Regions from separate parts of the Homo sapiens genome. Here region 2 is linked to region 1. Evidence: fine-mapped QTL for protein levels in blood plasma. A gene starts in region 1. The other region holds a variant in brackets. All regions are shown on one strand. Distances are between the middles of the regions. Region 1 holds the start of TNFRSF12A (TNF receptor superfamily member 12A). Region 2 holds the start of PKMYT1 (protein kinase, membrane associated tyrosine/threonine 1).

Region 1 (5,359 bases):
TGCCTCCTGTGTCAGTATCCCAGCCTGCCTCTCTGCCATCTCTCCCCAGGGAGCCTCTGCGCAAGCAGTTTCTGTCTGAGGAGAACATGGCCACCCACTTCTCTCAACTCAGCCTGCACAATGACCACCCCTACTGCAGCCCCCCCATGACCTTCTCCCCAGCCCTGCCCCCACTCAGGTAGGTTCCTCCACTGGCCAGGCCTTCTGCAGAATCACAGGCGGTCCTCACAGCTGACCTCAGGCCCTGCCTCATCGTGCCATTTTTAGCTCTAGCTGACCTCTGGGTTGTTTCCCATCTTGGCTCTTTGGAAAGTGCTGGGAACCCAGGAGCCCCTGGGGACCTGGACCTGGTGGGAGGTGCTCAGCTAGGCCAGCCTCAGCTCCATGCCCTGACAGTCATTTCCTCTTCTAGGAGCCCTTGCTCTGAGCTGCTTCTCTGGCGCTATCCTGGCAGCCTCATCCCTGAGGCCCTCCGTCTGCTGAGGCTGGGGGACACCCCCAGTCCCCCCTACCCTGCAACCCCAGCTGGGGACATAATGGAGCTCTGAGTGCTGGTGGACAGTGCCCCTCCCACCTTCCTTCTTCCCCACAACAGAAGAGACCAGCGACTCCCGCAAAGGGACAAGGTTCCTCCCTCTCCTGCAGAGTAGGCATCTGGGCACCAAGACCTTCCCTCAACAGAGGACACTGAGCCCAACGGAGTTCTGGGATGGGAGGGGTGGGAGCATGGGAAGGGAGGCATCCCACCCCCAAGAAGAACTGAATAAAGATTGCTGAGCAAAGGAAGGCTTCAGTCTGGAACCTGGGGCTTTTGGGGATGGTGGAGAGGGCAGAGGCGCGGGATGCTGGGGTTTCTCCTCAAGATCTTCCCTGGAAAACTGTTAGGGCCAGCCAGGTCCTTGCCGGCTGAGTTCCAGGCATTGAGAATGTGTGAGTCAGAGCCTCACCCCCGCCCCCGCGGCTGGCTGACTCACTCCCTCCCTCCAGCTCAGGGGAGTCAGTCGGGGATCACTGCCTCTCCAAACCATTTAAAGTTAAAGATTCTTTTATTAATAAATTCTCCCTCCCCTCCAAACTCTCCCCAAAATAAATATCTCCTCCCCGCTTTGGGGAGTTGGGGGGGTCTGTATCTTAGGGCCAGCCCTCCTAGTGGGCCAGCCCCCTAGTGTTAAAAATAGGTCCCTAACCCCCCAGGGTGACCCCCGTGGTGGAATTTCAGGACATCTGAGTGAGTGGGGCCTAGTGTCAAGTCTGCCCCCCAAGTCAGCCTGGCCCCCAGGGCCTCTAGGAAGGAGGGCACCCCCCTCCCCTGTGCAAATGCTGCAGTTCCTTAGTCAGTGTCAGCTGTTTTGTGTGAGCCAGCGTGAGGCTCCCTTTCTGTTCTGGAGCCAGAGGCAGGGCAACCAGACACCTTGGAAGGTTCCCCTGAACCCTGGGCCCAGGCCTCAGAGGTGATTCACCGCCCCCCACCCCCCTTGTGGTTGGAGGAGCTTGGCTCCCGCCGCGTCTGGGAGGCAGAGACTGGCTCTAGAATGGATGAATGAATGATGAGTGGGCGAGCCCCGGCTGGCAGGGGGCACATTGTCACTGGATCAGCGCCACAGCTGGGCAGCCCTCTCCGCCGGTCTCCTCTATGGGGGCTGCAAGATAAGAGGTGGGGTCGTCAGCAGCAGAGAAAAGGTCGAGTGCTGACAGGGCTGGGCAGGCCAGGGCACACTTACTGGTGAACTTCTCTCTCCTGCGGCATCGTCTCCAGACCAAAAAGCCAGAAAGCAGCCCCAGCACGAAGGTCAGGCTCAGAGCGCCCCCAAGGATGGGCCAAAGCAGCCGGAAGGGGGCAGGAGGTGCTGCAGCGCCTGGGGGCGGGACTCGGAGTCAGACCTCGCCCCTCTCCAGGCCAGCCCCGCCCCCTAAGACTGAGCCTTCTGCCTTCTCCCAAACGTGGCCTCCTCCCTGACCGGAGCCCCCTCCCAGCTCCCACCTCCTCCCGAATGATTTCCCAGATGCAAAGCTCTCGGCCCCGCTCTGCGCACCAGCCACCCTCCCTCCCAGTCTGGGGTCCGCTGGCCACTGGCCCTGCCCCCCACTCACAGCCCAGGCAGAAGTCGCTGTGCGGTCGCGCCCTGCAAGACGCGCAGTCCATGCACTTGTCCAGGTCCGCGCTCCAGGAGCTGCCGCGGGAGCAGGGGGCGGTGCCTGGGGAGGGGGCCTCGGGTCAGAGGCTGGGGGCGGGACTCGGCTATTCTGGGGTCTGAGGTCAGGGTCGGCCGGCTCGAATAACGTGAGTCACCGGCGCCCTCCCCGCGCATTCCTCACAGGTGACCGCACGGCCCGACCGGGACACGGCAGCTCCGGGAGGGAGGGCGTAGCGCGGGACGCTGGGGGTGGGGGGGGTCAGGTCCCCACAACCCCCCTGCCGCCGGCGGGTGACTCACTCCTGGGCACCGGGCCCGACCCCAGTCCCTCCCCCCGCATAGCTGGGCACTGAAGTCACCGGATGGAAGGGGGCACCCCACATGGTATAGAGGGCACAGACCCTAGTGCCTCTCGACGGCCTCCCCAACTCGTCGATCACTGGGGCTAGTTAGACCCTGTACGGACCAGGCTGGGGGCGTGCCCCTTCCTAGACTAAACATCCCGCCCTCACTCACTTTCTCTCTCCATTCGAAGTACTTCGGACTTGTGGAACTGAAGACCCCCCCCAACCCCAATTGGACGGTGGGAGAAACTGAGGCCCGGATTGTGAATGAAGCTTGGAGAGTGATGGAACTTCCCACAGCCGGGAGCGAGCTGTTTGAAGGCCACCTGACCCCAGATCCCCACATCCGCCTGTTCCCCCAGTTCGGCGCTGTTCTCCAGACACCCAGTCCGGCTCCCGAGCCCCGGCCCGGGGTTCCCCGACCCCGGAGTCCCGCGTACCTGGCGCTTGCTCCCCGGCCACGGAGCGCAGCAACGCCAGCCAGAGCCCCAGCACGAGGAGCCGCAGCAACCGGCGCAGCGAGCCCCGAGCCATAGTGCACGTCCTGCGCCCGCCGCTGTCTGCGCCCGCCGCCGGCCGGCAGGGACCCACGGCCGCCGCCCCGCCCCCGCCCCCGCCTTCCGGGGCGGAGCTCTCGCCTCCGCCCGCCTTGAGGTCCGCTTCGGGACGCCCCGCCCCGCGGCGCCCGCTCAGTTCAGTCATTCATTCAACAAAGTCCTGGCGCGGGAGCTGCCAGGACCCCGCAGGGACGCAGACCCCCTTCCTTGCCCAGCCGGTGATCTAGTCCAGCGTGCGTGGTGTGGGGAAATCAAAAATTAGACACGAGTGCTCGCTTCGGCAGCACATATAGAAATCAGACACGAACGGCCGGACGCGGTGGCTCACGCCTTTAATCCCATCAGTTTGGGAGTCTGAGGCAGGCGGATTACGAGGTCAGGAGTTCGAGAGCAGCCTGACCAACGTGGTGAAACGCCGTCTCTACTCGAAATACAAAAATTAGCCGGGCGTGGTGGCGCGCGCCTGCAATCCGAGCTACTCAGGAGGCTGAGGCAGGAGAATCTCTTGAACCCGGGAGGCAGAAGTTGCAGTGAGCCGAGATCGCGCCACTACACTCCAGCCTGGGCGACAGAGTGAGAGTCCGTCTCAAATAAATAAATAAATAAATAAATAAATAAATAAACAAACAAACAAACAATAAAAAGAAATCAGACACACGACCAATCCATGCAGAGATCACTGCAGCTTCCTTCCCCCCACCTCCCCTTGAGATTGCGTCTCACTCTTGCTCAGCCTGGAGTGCAGTGGTACGATCACGGCTCTCTGGGCTCAGGTGAGCCTCCCACCTCAGCCTCCCAAGTAGCTGGGACCACAGGCCCTGCCCCACCACGTCCGGCTAATTTTTGTATTTTTTGTAGAGACCAGGGTCTTACTATGTTGCCCAGGTTAGCCTGGCCACTACAGCTTTGTTAAGGGCCCGGGGGGTATAACAATTAAACCTGAGGTCAGGAGCTCGAGACCAGCCTGGCCAACTTGGTGAACCCCCGTCTTTACTAAAAATAAAAAAAAGAAAGAAGTTAGCCGGGCGTGGTAGTGGGCGCCTGTAATCTCAGCTACTCGGGAGACTGAGGCAGGAGAATTTCTGGAACCTGGGAGACGGAGGTTGCAGTCAGTCGAGATAGCGCCATTGCACTCCAGACTGGGCGACAGAGAGGGCCTCCATCTCAAAAAACAAAACAGGCCGGGCGCGGTGGCTCACGCCTGTAATCCCAGCACATTGGGAGGCCGAGGCGGGCAGATCACGAGGTCAGGAAATCGAGGCCATCCTGGCTAACACGGTGAAACCCCGTCTCTACTAAAAATACAAAAAAATTAGTCGGGGGTGGTGGCGGGCACCTGTAGTAGTCCCAGCTACTCTGGAGGCTGAGGCAGGTGAATGGCGTGAACCCGGAAGGCAGAGCTTGCAGTGAGCCAAGATCGCGCCACCACACTCCAGCCTTGGCGAGAGAGCGAGACTCCATCTCAAAAACAAACAACAACAACAACAAAAAACCAGCAACATAAAAATAATATTATCTGGCCGGGCGCGGTGGCTTAAGCCGGTAATCCCAGCGCAGTGCGAGGCCAAGGCGGGCGGATCGCTTGAGTCCGGGAGTTCGAGACGCCTGGGCAATATAACAAGACCCTGTCTATACAAAACAAAACATAAATTAGCTGGGCACGGTGGCGTGTGCTGCCTGTAGTCCCAGCTACTCAGGAGGCTGAGGCGGGAGGATCGCTTGAGCCCAGAAGGTCGAGACTGCAGTGAGCCGTGATCGCACCACTGCACTCCAGCCTGGGTGACACAGTGAAAATATTTCTCTAAAATAATACCAATAGTATGCCCTTTAATTTGTACCTTAGGACGTAGTTACATAATAAAATGCAGACTTGTTATCTCCATTTTGCAGAGTAGGAAACGAAGGCTCGGGAAGGTTAGGTGAGTTCCCCATGTCACCGCGCTGCTTAAGTGGTGAAGCGGAGTCTCAAGCTCTGTTCTACCCTAAGCCTGGCGCCCTCACCCTGGGTGAGTCTGGACGTCTGCCAGCCCGAGGCGGGCCCAGCGACCCCAGCCTCCAGCGCCCCCCTCTGACAAGCCTGGGATTCGCACGCCCGCTGCCGTCAGGGACAGGGTCTCTGCCCCTCCTCCGGGGCGGTGGTCCAGTGACGTCACCGCTTCTTTAAGACCCCCGCCTCCGCCCCTGTCCCGACACTCGGCCTAGGAATTTCCCTTATCTCCTTCGCAGGTGAGTCCGGGGCTAGTGTGCGTGTTGGAGAGACGCCTCTTGGGGCCGGGTGCAGGGTGGTGGCGGCGTGGGTAGGGGTGCGTGCGAACTCGGGCTG
Region 2 (5,359 bases), 38 kb after region 1:
GCATCGGAGCCTCCAGTATACCTTCCTAGGCATCCCAAGGCAACTCACACCAGCAAAGGTGACCTCTACAAACTCCTTCTCCCCACCCATCTGCCAGTTTGTTAAAACGTTATGCAGGCCTGGTGCAGTGGCTCATGCCTGTAATCCCAGCACGTTGGGAGGCCGAGGTGGGGTGATCACCTGAGGCCGGTAGTTCAAGACCAGCCTGACCACATGGAGAAAACCTGTCTCTACTAAAAATACAAAATTAGCCGGGCGTGGTGGCACATGCCTGTAATCCCAGCTACTCTGGAGGCTGAGGCAGGATAATTGCTTGAACCCGGGAGGTGGAGGTTGCGGTGAGCCGAGATCGCACCACTGCACTCCAGCCTGGGCAACAGGAGTGAAACTCCGTCTTAAAACAAAACAAAACAAAACCAAACCTTATGCAATTCCTTTGGTGTAGTGTCAGAAAAATAAAAGCCTTATGCAAGTGTGGCCAGGCACAGTGCTCATGCCTATAATTCCAGTACTTCAGGAGGCCGAGGCAGGAGGATTGTTTGAGCCCAGGAGCTCGAGACCAGCCTGGGCAACATAATGAGACCCCCGTCTCTACAAGAAATTAAAAATTAGCCAGGGTTGGGTGGTGCACCCCCGTGGTTCCAGCTACTTGGGAGGCTGAGGTGGGAGAATCACTTGAGCTTGGGAGGTTGAGGCTGCAGTGAATCGTGATCATACTATTGCCTGGGCAACAGAGTGAGACCCTGTCTCAAAAATAATCAAAACACAGGCTGGGCGCGGTGGCTCACGCCTGTAATCCCAGCACTTTGGGAGGCCGAGGCGGGTGGATCACCAGGTCAAGCGATTGAGACCATCCTGGCCAACGTGGTGAAACTCTGTCTCTACTAAAAATAAAAAAATCAGCTGGGCATAGTGGTGTGCGCCTGTAATCCCAGCTACTCGGGAGGCTGAGGCCGGAGAATCGCTTAACCCGGGAGGTGGAGGTTGCAGTGAGCCGAGATCGCGCCACTGTACTCCAGCCTGGCAACAGAGCAAGGCTCCGTCTGAAAATAAATAAATAAATAAATAAATAAAATAAAAAACCTTATTCAAGTGTGAAACATAGCATGCAAAGATTAGCACACATGAGATGTGAATGTGCCGTGCAGCTATCGTACTTATGAGACAAACCCCTATGCACCCAGCACCTGGGTCAAGAAGTAGAACATAGCCAGTTCCGCAGAAGCACCCATCACAGTCCCCTTCCTCCCATTAGGATAGCCACGTTTGCACTTGTGGTCGTCATTCCCTCGCTTTTTTTCTTTTGAGACGGAGTCTTGCTCTTGTCGCCCAGGCTGGAGTGCAGTCGCGCCATCTCGGCTCACTGCAACCTCCGCCTCCCGGGTTCAAGCGATTCTCCTGCCTCAGCCTCCTGTGTAACTGGGATTACAGGCGCCCGACACCACGCCTGGCTAATTTTTGTGTTTTTAGTAGAATCGGCGTTTCACCATGTTAGCCAGGCTGGTCTCAAACTCCTGACCTCAGGTGATCCGCTCGTCTCGGCCACCCAAAGTGCTAGGATTACAGGCGTGAGCCACCGCGCCCGGCCTCGCCTTTCCTTTTGTGGCCGAAACCGCATGAGTGAGTCTTCCTTGGAGAGTCTGGGCGGAGCCGCGGGTGCTGTGGCGGCGACGGGACACACGGGGGCGCGCGCGGCCCGCGCCTGGTCGCGCGGGTGGGACTCGCGGGAACCGGGTGCCTGGGCGGCGGCTGGGAGGATTCCTCCTGGAAGGAGGTCGGCAAAGCGCTTTGGTCCGGAACCCTGTGGGCCCGTGCCTCGGTCCCTGTGACCCCAAGGTGGTTAGAGGAGTCCGGGCTTCTTTCCTCCTGGGGCCTCTTTTTGGCCCAGACTGCAGCGTTGAAAACTGCAACAGACTGTACAGATGAGGGGGTCTTACTATTTTATTATTATTATTATTATTATTATTATTATTATTATTATTATTAATTTGAGACCGAGTCTCGCTCTGTCGCCCAGGCTGGAGTGCAGTGGCGCCATCTCGGCACACTGCAGCATCCACCTCCTGGGCTCAAGCGATCCTCCCACCTCACCCTCTTGACTAGCTGGGAGCACAGGTACACACCACCATGCCCAGCTAATTTTTGAATGTTTTGTAGAGACAGGGTTTTGCCATATTGCCCAGGCTGGTCTCTAACTTCTGAGCTCAAGTGACCTGCCCGCCTCAGCCTGCCAAATTGCTGGGATTACAGGCGTGACCACCTCGCCCAGCCTGTTATTCTGAAACAATGAGTAAGCCCCTACTGTGTGTTCGGCTCTGTGCTAAGCACTTCACAGGCATTTTCTCATGTGGTGCTCATACTCCCCGAGGAAGGAGGAACTACTATTATTATCACTTTATATTTTTTACAGGGTCTCACTCTGTTGCCCAGGCTCACTGCAGCCTTTTTTTTTTTTTTTTTTTTTGAGACAGAGTCTCGCTCTTGTCACCCAGGTTGGAGTGCAGTGGTGCGATGTGGGCTCACTGCAACCTCTGCCTCCCAGGTTCAAGCAATTCTGCCTCAGCCTCCCGAGTAGCTGGGATTACAAGCGCCTGCCATCACACCCAGCTAATTTTTGTATTTTTAGTAGAGAAGGGGTTTCACCATATTGGCCAGCCTGGTCTCGAACTCCTGAGCTCAAGTGATCCACCTGCCTCAGCCTCCCAAACTGCTGGGGTTACCAGCATGAGCCACTGCACCCGGCCCTCACTGCGGCCTTTAACTCCAGGGATCAAGTGATCCTCCTACTCCAGCCTCCTGAGGAGCTGGGACTACAGGTGTGTACCACTGTGCCTCACTGCTTTATTTCTTCTTTCTTTTCTTTTTTTCTCTCCCTTTCTTTCCTTCCTTCCTTTCCTTTCCTTTCTTTCTTTCTCTTTTTCTTTCCCTTTCTTCCCTTCCTTTTCTTTCTTTTTTCTTTCTTGAGACAGGGCCTTGCTATGTTGCCTAGTCTAGAAAACTATTATTTTTATCCCCATTTTACACACGCAGAAACTGGGGCAGGCAGGATCGCAGCCCTAGTTTCCCTCACACCACGCACTTATCTGCTCCATCTACTTATTTCCATTTACATATATTTATATTACAGCCTTTCCTCACACAGTGAAATTTACATCGGAAGCATGTGTTTCCATGCTTTTTTTTTTTTTTTTT[TA/A]ATTATCATTGTGAATCAGACTTTAAAAAATGGGCGGTTGGAAGGGGACCTGTTGGGGAGATGGGGCTGGCAGAGGTAGCCCTAGGCAGCTGGGGAGGGGCCTGTGTGTGCCCCAGGCCTCCTGGGGGCCAGTCTGGAGTCATCAACAAGGATCCTGCCTGAGTCACTGGGGCACAGCCGCCAGAGATGCGAAGGACAAGGAAAGGTGCAGGCAGGTGGGCTGCCGCCCCCAGCCAGGATCCCAGCCTCTCCTCCCCCACACTGCTGCTCCATGCACAGAACGTTTACAGAGGGTGCAGGAACTGAATGGGTGGGAAGCTTTGCAGTCCATGACCTGTCAGAGACTTGGGGAGGATGGAGGGTTTGGGGGACTGGTTCTGGAGGCCAGGGCTAGAAGGAGCAGGTAGTCAACAAGTAAACTCACAAACAAAAGATAGAACATCGGACAGAGATCAGGGCAATAGCAAAAATAAGGCGGAAGGAGAGGTGAGAGTGAGAAGGCCAGCGTTTGGGGGAGGGTTGGCCGGAAGCGTACTCCTCCCACCCAGTTAAACAGATAAAGAGCCCCTCGGTGAGGGAAGGAACAATCCCTAGCCCGACTTGCTCCGCGAGGGCCCCTGCTAATCACTTTAGGGGATCATCCCAGCGTCCTCAGCTGTTTTTTTTTTTCCAGGAGAGGAGACTAATCCGAAGCTCAGAAAGGCTCAGTGCATTCCCAAGGTCGTTCAGCCAGGAGAGCGCTGAAGGGATCTGAGCTGAGAGCAAGTCTCAAACTCAGAGAATGGAGGAGCTGCCCCGGAAGTGGCTGCTCGAGGCTGCAGTGAACTATGATCCTGCGGCCAATCGCGGTGGCTCACGCCTGTAATCCCAGCCTTCTGGGAGGCCGAGGCGGGCGGATCGCTTGAGGTCAGAAGTTCGACACTAGCTTGGCCAACATGGTAAAACACCGTCTCTACAAAAAAATGCAAAAATTAGTTGGGTGTGGTGGCGCGCGCCTGTGGTCCCAGCTACTCAGGAGGCTGAGGTGGGAGGAACGCTTGAGCGGGGGAGGCGGAAGTTACAGTGAGTCGAGATCGCCCCACTGCACTCCAGCCTGGACAACAGAATGAGACCCTGTCTAAAAATAAAATACATGAGCCGAGTGCGGTGGCGCGCGCCTGTGATCTCACATACTCGGCAGGCTGAGGTTGGGAGAACCGCCTGAACCTGGGGACTGCACCACTGCATTCCAGCCTTGGTGACAGTGAGACCCTGTCTAAAAAAAAAAAAAAAAGTATCTGAGGCCTGTTGGCAGGGAAGCTGCAGGCAGGCGAGGTCAGGCCAAGCAGAGTCCTGCCTATCTGGAGAGCTTCCTGGAAGAGGCGGCTTTTTCTGGCTCCCGAAGCCGTGCGCTAGGGGTTGGGGGTCGTGCGTCTGGCCTCCCACCGCGACCCTGGTTCAGAACACGGCCGGAGTGAGAAGGGGGGTGCCGGGACCCAGGAGGCCGTAGGGACTTCCTGGTCCTACCCGGAGTAACCCTGGGGCTACGCCTGCTCCGAGCACCGGGATGGCGGTCCCTTTTATGGACCCAAACACTACGCCAGCCCAGCGAGGGCGGTGGGTGTCGGGTGCGAGGCCTGGAGGGCAGTGGGCGTCCCAGGGACTGGGCGGCTGAAGCCCCGCGCAGCGACTCAGAACCAGGCCGCCACCCACGCCCCGGGCCAGCGCGGAGAATCCTGTGCGCCTGCGCAGTGAGCGGCGGGGCGGCTCGGCGGCGCGCACGCAGCACGAGGGGCGGAGCCTCGGAGCCCGGGCACCCCTGACGGGCTGCACTGGGGAGGGGGAGGAGCCTCGAGGCCGGTTTGGAATTTTTGGCGCGAGCAGCTCCGCGCGCGTTCACGGGCCGTTCCCCCTCACGGGAGTCCTCCGCCCGGGCGTCCGGAACAGTCGACGGCAGACTCCGGCCCGCTGAGCCACCCGAGGGGTCCCGTGGCCTCCGCGGACCCGGAATCTGGGCCCTCGCGGACCCGCGCCCCGCCCAGTCGCCCCAGGTGAGCCCAGACCCCGCCGTGAGGGGCCTCGGCGTGGCCACCTCGCCGCTCCCCTCCGCCTCGCCAGGTCTGCGTTACCCCTGCCCCTCAGGCCTCCCCGGCGGCCCGCTCGCGTCCCCTCAGGCCCGCCCCCGCG

The links. A credible set is the group of variants that fine-mapping cannot tell apart. PIP is the posterior inclusion probability: the model's chance that the variant is causal. Protein levels are from antibody-based Olink assays in UK Biobank. Linkage for the fine-mapping came from a reference panel and not from the study's own genotypes, which makes the PIPs less certain.
Region 2: its variant is the best candidate, but not a certain one, in a credible set for the plasma level of the TNFRSF12A protein (UK Biobank, PIP 0.67).

The regions. Positions count from the first base shown.
Region 1 is chr16:3,018,052-3,023,410 of GRCh38, reverse strand. It overlaps TNFRSF12A (TNF receptor superfamily member 12A), which reads right to left and starts at 3,043. Exons shown (of 4, transcript NM_016639.3): 1 at 2,920-3,043; 2 at 2,092-2,196; 3 at 1,722-1,856; 4 at 1,028-1,640. The coding sequence starts at 3,013. The coding sequence ends at 1,585. It overlaps CLDN6 (claudin 6), which reads left to right and starts at 5,228. Exons shown (of 2, transcript NM_021195.5): 1 at 5,228-5,262. HCFC1R1 (host cell factor C1 regulator 1) reads left to right here. Exons shown (of 4, transcript NM_017885.4): 3 at 50-178; 4 at 413-786. The coding sequence ends at 548. RefSeq lists enhancers at 1,332-1,975, 1,515-2,714, 2,621-3,265, 4,034-4,629, 5,227-5,359 and 2 more and silencers at 1,955-2,124, 2,975-3,194.
Region 2 is chr16:2,980,150-2,985,508 of GRCh38, reverse strand. It overlaps PKMYT1 (protein kinase, membrane associated tyrosine/threonine 1), which reads left to right and starts at 5,063. Exons shown (of 9, transcript NM_004203.5): 1 at 5,063-5,223. RefSeq lists silencers at 1,587-1,773, 1,728-1,787, 2,028-2,077, 4,730-5,089, 5,100-5,329 and enhancers at 2,198-2,699, 3,744-4,620, 4,621-5,359. The variant TA/A (reference allele first, on the strand shown) is at 3,193.